Regions from separate parts of the Homo sapiens genome. Here region 2 is linked to region 1. The links come from fine-mapping of genetic effects on gene expression. Tissue or cell type: whole blood. Region 1 holds a variant in brackets; the other region holds the start of a gene. All regions are shown on one strand. Distances are from middle to middle.

What was found. PIP is the estimated chance that this variant, and not a neighbour inherited with it, causes the effect.
Region 2: it holds the start of SCAMP2, and the variant in region 1 is fine-mapped to the expression of SCAMP2 in whole blood (INTERVAL, PIP above 0.99). The same link has a PIP of 0.9 or more in sun-exposed skin and unexposed skin.

What each region holds. Positions count from the first base shown.
Region 1 is chr15:74,927,648-74,932,793 of GRCh38, forward strand. It overlaps COX5A (cytochrome c oxidase subunit 5A), which reads right to left. Exons shown (of 5, transcript NM_004255.4): 2 at 1,469-1,585. Among named protein-coding and RNA genes, the nearest start is that of COX5A, 7.9 kb to the right of the region's middle. The variant C/T (reference allele first, on the strand shown) is at 2,237.
Region 2 is chr15:74,870,978-74,876,123 of GRCh38, forward strand. SCAMP2 (secretory carrier membrane protein 2) reads right to left here and starts at 2,388. Exons shown (of 9, transcript NM_005697.5): 1 at 2,222-2,388. The coding sequence starts at 2,278. RefSeq lists an enhancer at 1-571.

The sequences.
Region 1 (5,146 bases):
TGTAATTCCAGCTACTCTCGAGGCTGAGGCAGGAGAATCACTTGAACCCAGGTGGTGGAGGTTGCAGTGAGCTGAGATCGCGCCATTGCACTCTAGCCTGGGCAATAAGAGAGAAACTCCATCTCAAACAAAACAAAACAAACAAACAAAAAAACCAAAATAAAAGAGATTCAACTGGAAAACAGCCTAAAAACAGCCAGAGAAATGCGTAGAGTTAATGAAGCCTAAATGAGGACATTAAGGAGATATTATAGAGAAACATTAGTACACAGACTCATAAACATTCAACCAGAAAATGATTGGGCATGATTACTTTCAGATCTGCACAAAATGACACATAATAAAATTTAAGATTCTCTTAATGGGAATACATAATTGTTCTTTTTATTACTTCTACTCCAGATTGTTCAGTAAGAATTCTATTGGTTGTAGCAAAAGGGAATCATTACATTTCTGCAGAGAAGTTTAAAGCACTTAGGTTTCTTGCTTTTATTACTTTAAAATATTTAAACAAAGGATACCAGTGAATACGATAGTCATTGAGATTGAATTTTTGGTATGAGATAAATTACCCTACACCTAATTCTATTTTTTCATGTTAAGTGTGCATCTGCAAATTTAGGAAAGACAAGTTCTAACTTACTTAGATACTTATTCATGGCAAAACAATGCAAAAATAACAAAAAACCCAAACCATCACCCAAAGGGGAAGGGAACCAAATGACTGCTTTGTGTAAATTCTTTTTTTTTTTTCTGAGACAGAGTCTCACTCTGTTGCCCAGGCTGGAGTGCAGTGGCGCGATCTCGGCTCACTGCAAGCTCTGCCTCCCGGGTTCACGCCATTCTCCTGCCTCAGCCTCCCGAGTAGCTGTGACTACAGGCGCCCGCCACCACGTCCGGCTAATTTTTTTGTATTTTTAGTAGAGACGGGGTTTCACCATGTTAGCCAGAATGGTCTTGATCTCCTGACCTCGTGATCCGCCCACCCTGGCCTCCTAAAGTGCTGGGATTACAGGCGTGAGCCACCGCGCCCGTGCTATGTAAATTGTTTGAAATGTACAAAACTGTTACCTTTTGCTCATCTAGCCTTATTGCTATAGCAGTGGTTTTCAATTAAGGGTGACTTCATCCCTCAGGAGACACTGGGTAATGCCTAGAAACATTTTTGGTTGTCATGATACGAATGTGTGCATACTGGCTCCTAGCAGGTAGAGGCCAAAGGTGATGCTAAACACCCTACAGTGTAAAGGACAGTCCCCTACAACAAAGAATTATCTGGCCCAAAATGTCAATAGTGCCTGCCTTAAAATCCTGCTTTATAGGTAGCCATAAACTTTCCTAACTGCAAGTTGCATGAAGTAACCAGTTTAAACAACGCATGTTTTCGAAACAGTTGCTCTCAATAAAGGAGCAGAAGCAGTTCATATTTACACACCAAAATAGACAAATATGTTTATGTTCCAATTACCTTTACGCAATTCCCAGGCATCTATATCTGGCTTGTTGAAGTATGTTACCCAGCGAGCATCAAACTCCTCATCTGTCTCCTGTGACCCATGGGAATAGCAGCGAACTGACTGGATAGCTATAATGTGAAAGAACCATAACTTCAATGTACACAAATAGTACTTGATATATTTTGTTCAATGCATTAAATTTTGAGTTGACTATATATGTTGTGGCAGCAAAAATATTGAACAGGTCAAATGAAATACATCGTATACATTGATACAGAAAGATATATTTTAAATTAAGCAAATAAAATCAAGTAGAACAAAAAGTATTACATAGGCATGTTTATACTTTTCTCCCTAATGTATAATACTCGCTTGAAATTATTAACAGTGGTTCCCTCTGATTTTAAATTAACAGTGATTATCATGGGACGTAAAAACTACTTTATATACTTCCATATTGTTTGAATTTTTACACATAACCAGAGTATTAATTCCTAAGTAAAAATGTCCCAGGTGGGCATAGTGGGGCACACACCTGTAGTGCCAGCTACTCAGAGGCTGAGGCAGGAAGATTACCCGAGCCCAGGAGTTCAAGGTCGTAGGGTGCTAACAATATGACAGAACCTGATAAGATAGCCATTGCATTCCAGCCTGGGCAACACAGCGACACCCCACTTCTAAAAACTAAGAATAGGCCAGGCGCAGTGGCTCACGCCTGTAATCCCAGCACTTTGGGAGGCCGAGGCAGGCGGATCACGAGGTCAGGAGATCAAGACCAT[C/T]CTGGCTAACACGGTGAAACCCCGTCTCTACTAAAAATACAAAAAATTAGCCAGGTGTGGTGGCGGGCGGCTGTAGTCCCAGCTACTCGGGAGGCTGAGGCAGGAGAATGGCGTGAACCTGGACGGCGGAGGTTGCAGTGAGCTGAGATCACACCACTGCACTCCAGCCTGGGCGACAGAGCAAGACTCCAACTCAAAAAACAAACAAACAAACAAAAACAAAAACAAAAACAAAAACTAAAAAACTAAGACTAGGCCGGGCGCAGTGGCTCACGCCTGTAATCCCAGCACTTTGGGAGGCTGAGGCGGGTGGATCAAGAGGTCAAGAGATCAAGGCCATCCTGGCCAACATGGTGAAACCCCATCTCTACTAAAAGTATAAAAATTAGCTGGGTGTGGTGGCGCGTGCCTGTAGTCCCAGCAACTCGGGAGGATGAAGCAGGGGAATTGCTTGAACCCAGGAGGCGGAGGTTGCAGTGAGCCAAGATTGTGCCACTGCACTCCAGCCTGGCGACAGAGCGAGACTCCGCCTCAAAAAAAAAAAAAAAGACAATAAACAACAACAACAAAAAAAACCAAAAAAGCAACAAAAAAAAAAAACTAAGAGCAATACTAATGTCCATTCAAGTTCTTTTTTTTGAGACAGGCTCTCGCTCTGTTGTTGCCTAGGCTGGAGTGTAGTGGCGCAATCACAGCTCACTGCAGCCTCAAATTCTTTGGGCTCAAGCATTCCTTCCTCCCTTGGCTCCCAAAGTGCTGGGATTACAGGTGTGAGCCACCAGCCCTGGCACCATTCAAGTTCTTAAATAAACTTATATACTTCATTCACACATTAAAAAAAAAAAAATCTCGGGCCGGGCTTGGTGGCTCACGCCTGTAATCCCAGCACTTTGGGAGGCCGAGATGGGCAGATCACCAGGTCAGGATATCGAAACCATCCTGGCTAACACGGTGAAACCCCGTCTCTACTAAAAATACAAAAAATTAGCCAGGTGTGGTGGCGGGCGCCTGTGGTCCCACCTAGTTGGGAGGCTGAGGCAGGAGAATGGCGTGAACCCAGGAGGCGGAGCTTGCAGTGAGCAGAGATCACGCCACTGCACTCCAGCCTGGGCAACAGAGCGAGACTCTGTCTCAAAAAAAAAAAAAAAAAAAAAAAAAAAAAATTCTCATGTTATTATATTCCAAAATAAATTACACATCCTGACAAATTACACATACAAATTGCTTTATCAAACTACAGCCCCTTCCCAAAATATTCTGATAAATCCCCTAAGGGAACGTACACTCTAATCTACACCTAATGCAAAATAATACTGTTTTACTAGGAATATTTTGGGCTGGGCGCAGTGGCTCACACCTGTAATGCCAGCACTTTGGGAGGCTGAGACTGGTGGATCACCTGAGTTCAGGAGTTTGTGACCAGCCTGATCAACATTGTGAAACTCCGTCTCTACTAAAAATACAAAAATTAGCTGGGCGTGATGACGGGCGCCTGTAATCTCAGCTACGCGAGAGACTGAGGCAGGAGAATCACTCGAACCCAGGAGGCGGAGGTTGAGGTGAGGTGAGATGATGCCATTGTACTCCAGCCTGGGCGACACAGCAAGACTCTGTCTCAAAGAAAAAAAGAAATGATGTTTACATAGAGTACTGTATGAAAAGCATTTCCATTTTTTTTTTTTTTTTTTGAGATCGAGTCTCACTCTGTCACCCAGGCTGAAATGCAGTGGAACAATCTCAGCTCACTGCAACCTCTGCCTCCTGGATTCAAGTGATTCTCCTGCCTCAGCCTTCTGAGTAGCTGAGACTACAGGCGAGCGCCACTAAGCTTGGCTAAGTTTTGTATTTTGAGTAGAGACGGGATTTCACCACATTGCCCAGGCTGGTCTCGAACTCCTGACCTCCAGTGATCTGCCCACCTCAGCCTCCCAAAGTGCTGGGATTACAGACGCGAGCCACTGCACCCAGCCCCATTTTTTCTTTCTTCTTGTCAAATGGACACTGAATTGAGTTTGGAAATCTGAATTCCTTCTGAACAGCCTCTGGAACAGGTAGGGGGATAGGCGGAGGCAGAAAATTTTATCTTTGGGTATTGAATGCAGCACAACCTAGCACTCAGATACCTCTAGGCTCTTCGCTCTCTCTGTTTGACCCTGGAAAATTAACTTAAGTTTATTTTCCTTATCTGTAAAATGGGGACGCTACCCCCCTTAGCAGATTATGAAGATTAAATGTGAAAACAGGTAGGTTAACACTATGCACTGGTAAGTATTAAACAAATGGTAGCTATAAACTAACCCTTATCTAAAAACGTCTTAGTTGTCTATTTATAGAAATCATAACTTAAAGAAATGAAACCTATCTCAAATCACATTTCCTACTACCTGTATTAGATAAGTGTGGTGTAACTTCCAGTTGTTTAAGGCTTAACATATTTTTATTTATTTACTTTTAGAGATGGGGGTCTTGATATGTTGCCCAGGGTGGTCTTAAACTCCTAGCCTCAAGCAATCCTACCACTCCCAAAATACTAGAATTACAGGTGTGAGCCACCATGCCCAGCCTTAACATACATATATATATATTTTTAAAAACTTCACCCAGAAACCTCTCAACATTGTTGTTCTAAGAACACTGAAATTTAAACATTAGTAATATCCTATATATCTTTAATGCAGTAACTGGCAGGAGGAAGAGTAGCAAAAAAACGAAGCAGAAAAGATCTTCCCAGAGACCTAAATTACCTACATAATCCAAGCCCAGAATGAAGTGGAACATGTACATAAATGGACTAGAAGTGAACACGTTTTAATTTCTTTTTTTTTTTTTTTGAGACAGAGTCTCACCCTGTCGCCCAGGCTGGAGTGCAATGGCACGATTTCGGCTCACTGCAACCTCCACCTCCCGGGT
Region 2 (5,146 bases), 57 kb before region 1:
CATCCTGACAGAGCAGAATATCAGGGCTCATAATTCACCAGTCAGCACAAACAAGCTTCCCTAGAACGGGTTTTGAGCAGACGTGAAACAAGAGGCATAGGAGCTCTGGAGGTAACAGTTCAGCCCCTCATGGTGGAAAAAGATCATCCCTGTGCTCTCAGCTGAAAGGCAGAAAGGTGTGGGCTTTAAGTAGGAAGACTGTCCTGTGGCTCATGCCTGTAATCATAGCACTTTGAGAGGCTGGGGCCAGAGGATTGCTTGAGACCAGGATTTCGAGACCAGCTTGGGCATCACAGCGAGACCCCTTCTCTACAAAAATTTTTTTTAAAAGGAGTCAGGCCCAGTGGCACATTCTTGTAGTCCCAGCTACTCAGGAGACTGAGGTGGGATTCAAATAATCATTTGAATCCTGGAGGTCAAGGCTGCCATGACCTCCACTGTGCTACAGCCTGGGCGACAGAGTGAGACCCTGCCTTAAAAAAGGAAGAAAGAGGGCTGGGCGCAGTGGTTCATGCCTGTAATCCCAGCACTTTGGGAGGCCGAGGCAGGTGGATCACCTGAGGTCGGGAGTTCGAGACCAGCCTGACCAACGTGGAGAAACCCCGTCTCTACTAAAAATACAAAATTAGCCGGTCGTGGTGGTGCATGCCTGTAATCCTAGCTACTCAGGAGGCTGAGGAAGGAGAATTGCTTGAACCCAGGAGGCTGAGGTTGCAGTGAGCCGAGATCGCGCCACTGCACTCCAGCCTGGGCAACAAGAGCAAAACTCTGTCTCAAAAAAAAGAGGCCAGGTGTGGTGGCTCACCCCTGTAATCCCAGCACTTTGGGAGGCTAAGGTGGGTGGATCACTTCAGGCCAGGAGTTTGAGACCAGTCTGGCCAATAAGGTGAAACCCCGTCTCTACTAAAAATACAAAAATTAGCCGGGTGTGGTGGTGCACACCTGTAATCCCAGTTTCTCGGGAGGCTGAAGCACGAGAATCACTTGAACCCAGGAGGCTGAGGCTGCAGTGAGCCGAGATCGCGCTACTGCACTCCAGCCTGGGCGACAGAGCAAGAATTGTCTCAAAAAACAAAACAAAACAAAACAAAAAAAAAGGAAAAGAAAGAAAGCAGGAAGATTGTTTCTTCCTTGATTGCTGTTCAAAAGGTCAGGCCAGGCGTGGTGGCTCACACCTGTAATCCCAGCACTTTGGAAGGCCGAGGCGGATGGATCACCTGAGGTCAGGAGTTTGAGACCAGCCTGGCCAACACGGTGAAACCCCGTCTCTACTAAAAGTATGAAAATTAGCTGGGTGTGGTGGCATACGCCTGTAGTCCCAGCTACTCAGGAGGCTGAAGCAGGAGAATTGCTTGAACTCGGGAGGCAGAGGTTGCAGTGAGCGGAAATCGTGCCAATGCACTCCAGCCTGGGCGACAAAGCGAGACTCCGTCTCAAAAAAAAAAAAAAAAGTCAGGCCAGCTCACACGTCAGTGCATCTCAACTATGTTGCCACCACACACAGTTCCATCAGACAAACGTTCCCTGTGGGTCCAGAATTTTTCACAGTCCCCCGCACCTCTCCTCTCTCCCTAACCCGGGCTCTCCTATCTGGTCAAAACCCACTCCAAACTAGACCCATGGCCAAAATGTGGAATTCTTATCAAGGCCATTTTTCAACTTGGGCTACCTTCCCGCCCTCTCCCATCTTTCTTTCCCTGACAAATCTCAGGGGCTCTCCTGTACTTTATACACTAGTTTGGCTGGTGGTGGAGCGGTGGCAGGTGTCCTGGGCTTTTCCCACATTTTTCCCCTCCACCAGAGGCTTCACCACCTCCTCATATGTTGCTGTCACCCCCTCTTCTAAAGTGACTCAAGACAGGTGTCTATCCAAGAATGAGGGAATGCGATAGCCACATTTCGCTTCTCCCTGACGCTAGGAGACTTCCGGAAGGGTCCGACCGTACCTGCTCCAGTCCCCTTCCCTAGCACAGCCCAGCCTCCGGGTGCTAGAAGACCCCACTGTCTCCAACACTTCAGCGCCCCGCCTCCTCTGCAGTTCCACCTGCTGCTAGTCGCGCCCCTCACGCGTTACGATAGGCCAGACCTCAAAGCCCGCTCTCCCATTGGGCAGATGACCCGTCCCTCCTACGCCACGTCTCCCGGCTCTAGCGAGAGGCCCGGGCGGCGGCCGTGGGCCCTAGGGAAATCTGAGAGCTGGATGGCGGGAGAGGGGCTCTACCTGGAAGGGGTTTACATCCACTGGGTCCGCGAAGGGGTTGGTGTCGAAAGCCGACATGGTGATCGGGGGCCAGCGGGCGAACTCCGCGAACGCTGCTGCCTCCGGGCACCCAGACCCAGCGGCGCTTCGTGTAGACCCTCCACTTCCGGGAGCGAGGCAGCGGTTCTGGCGCAGGCGCGATGCCCTCCCCCGAGGGCGTGGCCCTATGACGGCACCGGGGTCGCTCCGCCCCCCCCCCCCCCCCCCCCGCCCAGCCCACAATAGTGCGGTGGGTGGGCATTCGGCTTCCGTCCACATCTTCGCTCTGCTGGGGATTCAGGGGTCTTGGCTGCGCGGAGCGTCTACGGAGCCAGAGGCGTGGCCGGAGTCCTTCCCAACTGCCTATCAATCTGACACCTTCCAATTTTATGTTTCTAAAGCAAACTCTCAAAAGTGGGACAGGAAACAGCCCCTTCACTTCTCTGTAGACCAAGTTTGGGAAGAAGTCCAAACTGATCCCTGGGCAAAGGACAGGGGTGACAGGTGAGGCCAGAGGCCTTGGGAGAACTAGGAAAGCGCTTCTTCTGCAGAACGTGCTCGGGGAAAGAGAAGTGCCAGGACCATCCAGCAGTCCTCCACCCGAGCTGAGCCTGCTTCTTCTAGGGCTGCTCGCCCTCTGATGTCGTTTCATCGTTTTAGGGACGAGGGTTCCTGGGCCCATCAGCTTTGGGACCTGAGTTGGGACTTGAACCTGGACATCAAACATTTATGAAGTGACTCACGGAATTCAGCAACACAGCCTCAATCATGGGGGAGGTGGCTGCTTCACTCTCCACAGCTCCGCTTTCCCCCGCCCCCGCCCCCCACAGGGTCTCACTGTCGCCCAGGCTGGAGTGCAGTGGTGCAATCATGGCTCACTGCAGCCTCGAGCTCCTGGGCTCAAGCAATCCTCCCACCTCAGCCTCCTGAGTAGCTGGGACTACAGCTGGTCACCACCATACCCAGCTAATTTATGGATTTTTTGTAGAGATGGGGATCTCACTATATTGCCCAGGCTCGTCTCAAACACCTGGGCTGAAGTGATCCTCCCGCCTTGGCTTCCTAAAATGCTAGGATTATACTCATGAACCACTGTCTGGCCAAATCCACCTTATTTATTTGGATCTGTCTGGTATTATTCATCTCTGCTGTCACCGAATCCCAGCCACTGTCATTTTTACCCTGAACTAATACAGTGCTGTTAATTGGTCTATTGTTCTTCATGTTGTAATCAAAGATATGTTTAAAGGGGGCAAAATTATCACAGAACTTTGTTAAAATTTTTCAATTAATTTCCATAAAGGGCTGGGTGCGTGGCTTATGCCTGTAATCCCAGTACTTTGGGAGGCAGAGGTAGGAGGATCACTTGAAGCCAGGAGTTCGAGACCAGCCTAGGCAACATACCAGGACCCTGGCTCTACAAAAAAAAAAAAAAAAAAAAAAAAATATATATATATATATATATATATATATATATACATATACATATCTCACACACACACGTAATTAGCTAGGCATGGTGGCCTGTGCCTGTACTCCCAGCTACTTGGGAGGCTGAGGCAGGAGGACTGTTTGAGCTCAGGAGGTCAAAGCTGCAGTGAGCCATCTTTGCACCACTACACTCCAGCTGAGTGACAGAGTGAGACCCTGTCTCAGTTAAAAAAAAAAAAAAAAAAATCAGGCCAGGCAAGGTGGCTCATGCCTGTAGTCGCAGCACTTTGGGAAGCCAAGGCAGGCAGATCACCTGAGGTCAAGAGTTCGAGACCAGCCTGGCCAATATGGTGAAACCTCATCTCTACTAAAAATACAAAATTAGCTGGGTGTGGTGGTGCACACCTGTAATCCCAGCTACTTGGGAGGCTGAGGCAGGAGAATCGTTTGAACCTGGGAGGCGGAGGTTGCAGTGAGCTAAGATTGCAACATTGCACTCCAGCCTGGGCAAAAAGAGTGAAACTCTGTCTCAAAAAAAAAAAAAAAAAATCATAAAGGCCCAAATTCTTAGTTTGTCTTCAAGGTCCTAAAGGATCTGCCCCTACGTTTCTCCCCTTCTGACCCCTTCTAGCCCCCAACCCCCACCCACTGTTCCAGCCATGCAAGTTCTTTTCAGTTGCTCAAACCTTCCTTGTGCCCTCCTGTCTCAGGGCCTTTACACATGTGTTCCTTCTACCTGGTATGCACTTAACCCATGCCCCACTATCATCCTCTGGTTAACCTCTCCTTACCCTTTAAATGCAAGTTCAGATGCCTTTCTTCAGGAGTAGCTTCCCTTCACTCTCTTGGTTACATCATCACCTCATACCCAACATAAGCTCTCCTATTGCCCTGTACTTTTCCTTCACAATACCCATTGCAGATTGTAATTAATACTAGTATAGGTGGTTCTTTATGCCTGTATCCTCCGCTAGACTGAAAGCTCCATGAGGGTAGGGCTGAGGTCTGTTTTGCTCACTGTTGTGTTTCTGTCACTAACATAGTATAAAGCACATGATACACATTTATTAATTTATTTTTTGTGGGTTTGGGGTTTTTTTTTTTTCCAGACAAAGTCTCACTCTGTCACCCAGGGTGGAGTACAGTGGCATGATCTCAGCTCAGTGCAATCTCCGCCTTCCAGGTCCAAGAGATTCTGCTGCTTTAGCCTCCCAAGTAGCTGGGATTACAGGCACTCACCACCACACCCAGTTAATTTTTTTTTTTTTTTTTTTGTAATTTTAATAGAGACTGGGTTTCACCATCTTGGCCAGGCTGGTCTTGAACTCCTGATTTCAAATGATCTGCTCGCCTCGGCCTCCCAAAGTGCTGGGATTACAGGCGTGAGCCACTGTGCCCAGCCCACATGCATCATACACATTTAGTAACTATTTTACTGTTTCCCTGCATCCATTTATTTTGTTTGTTTATTTAGAA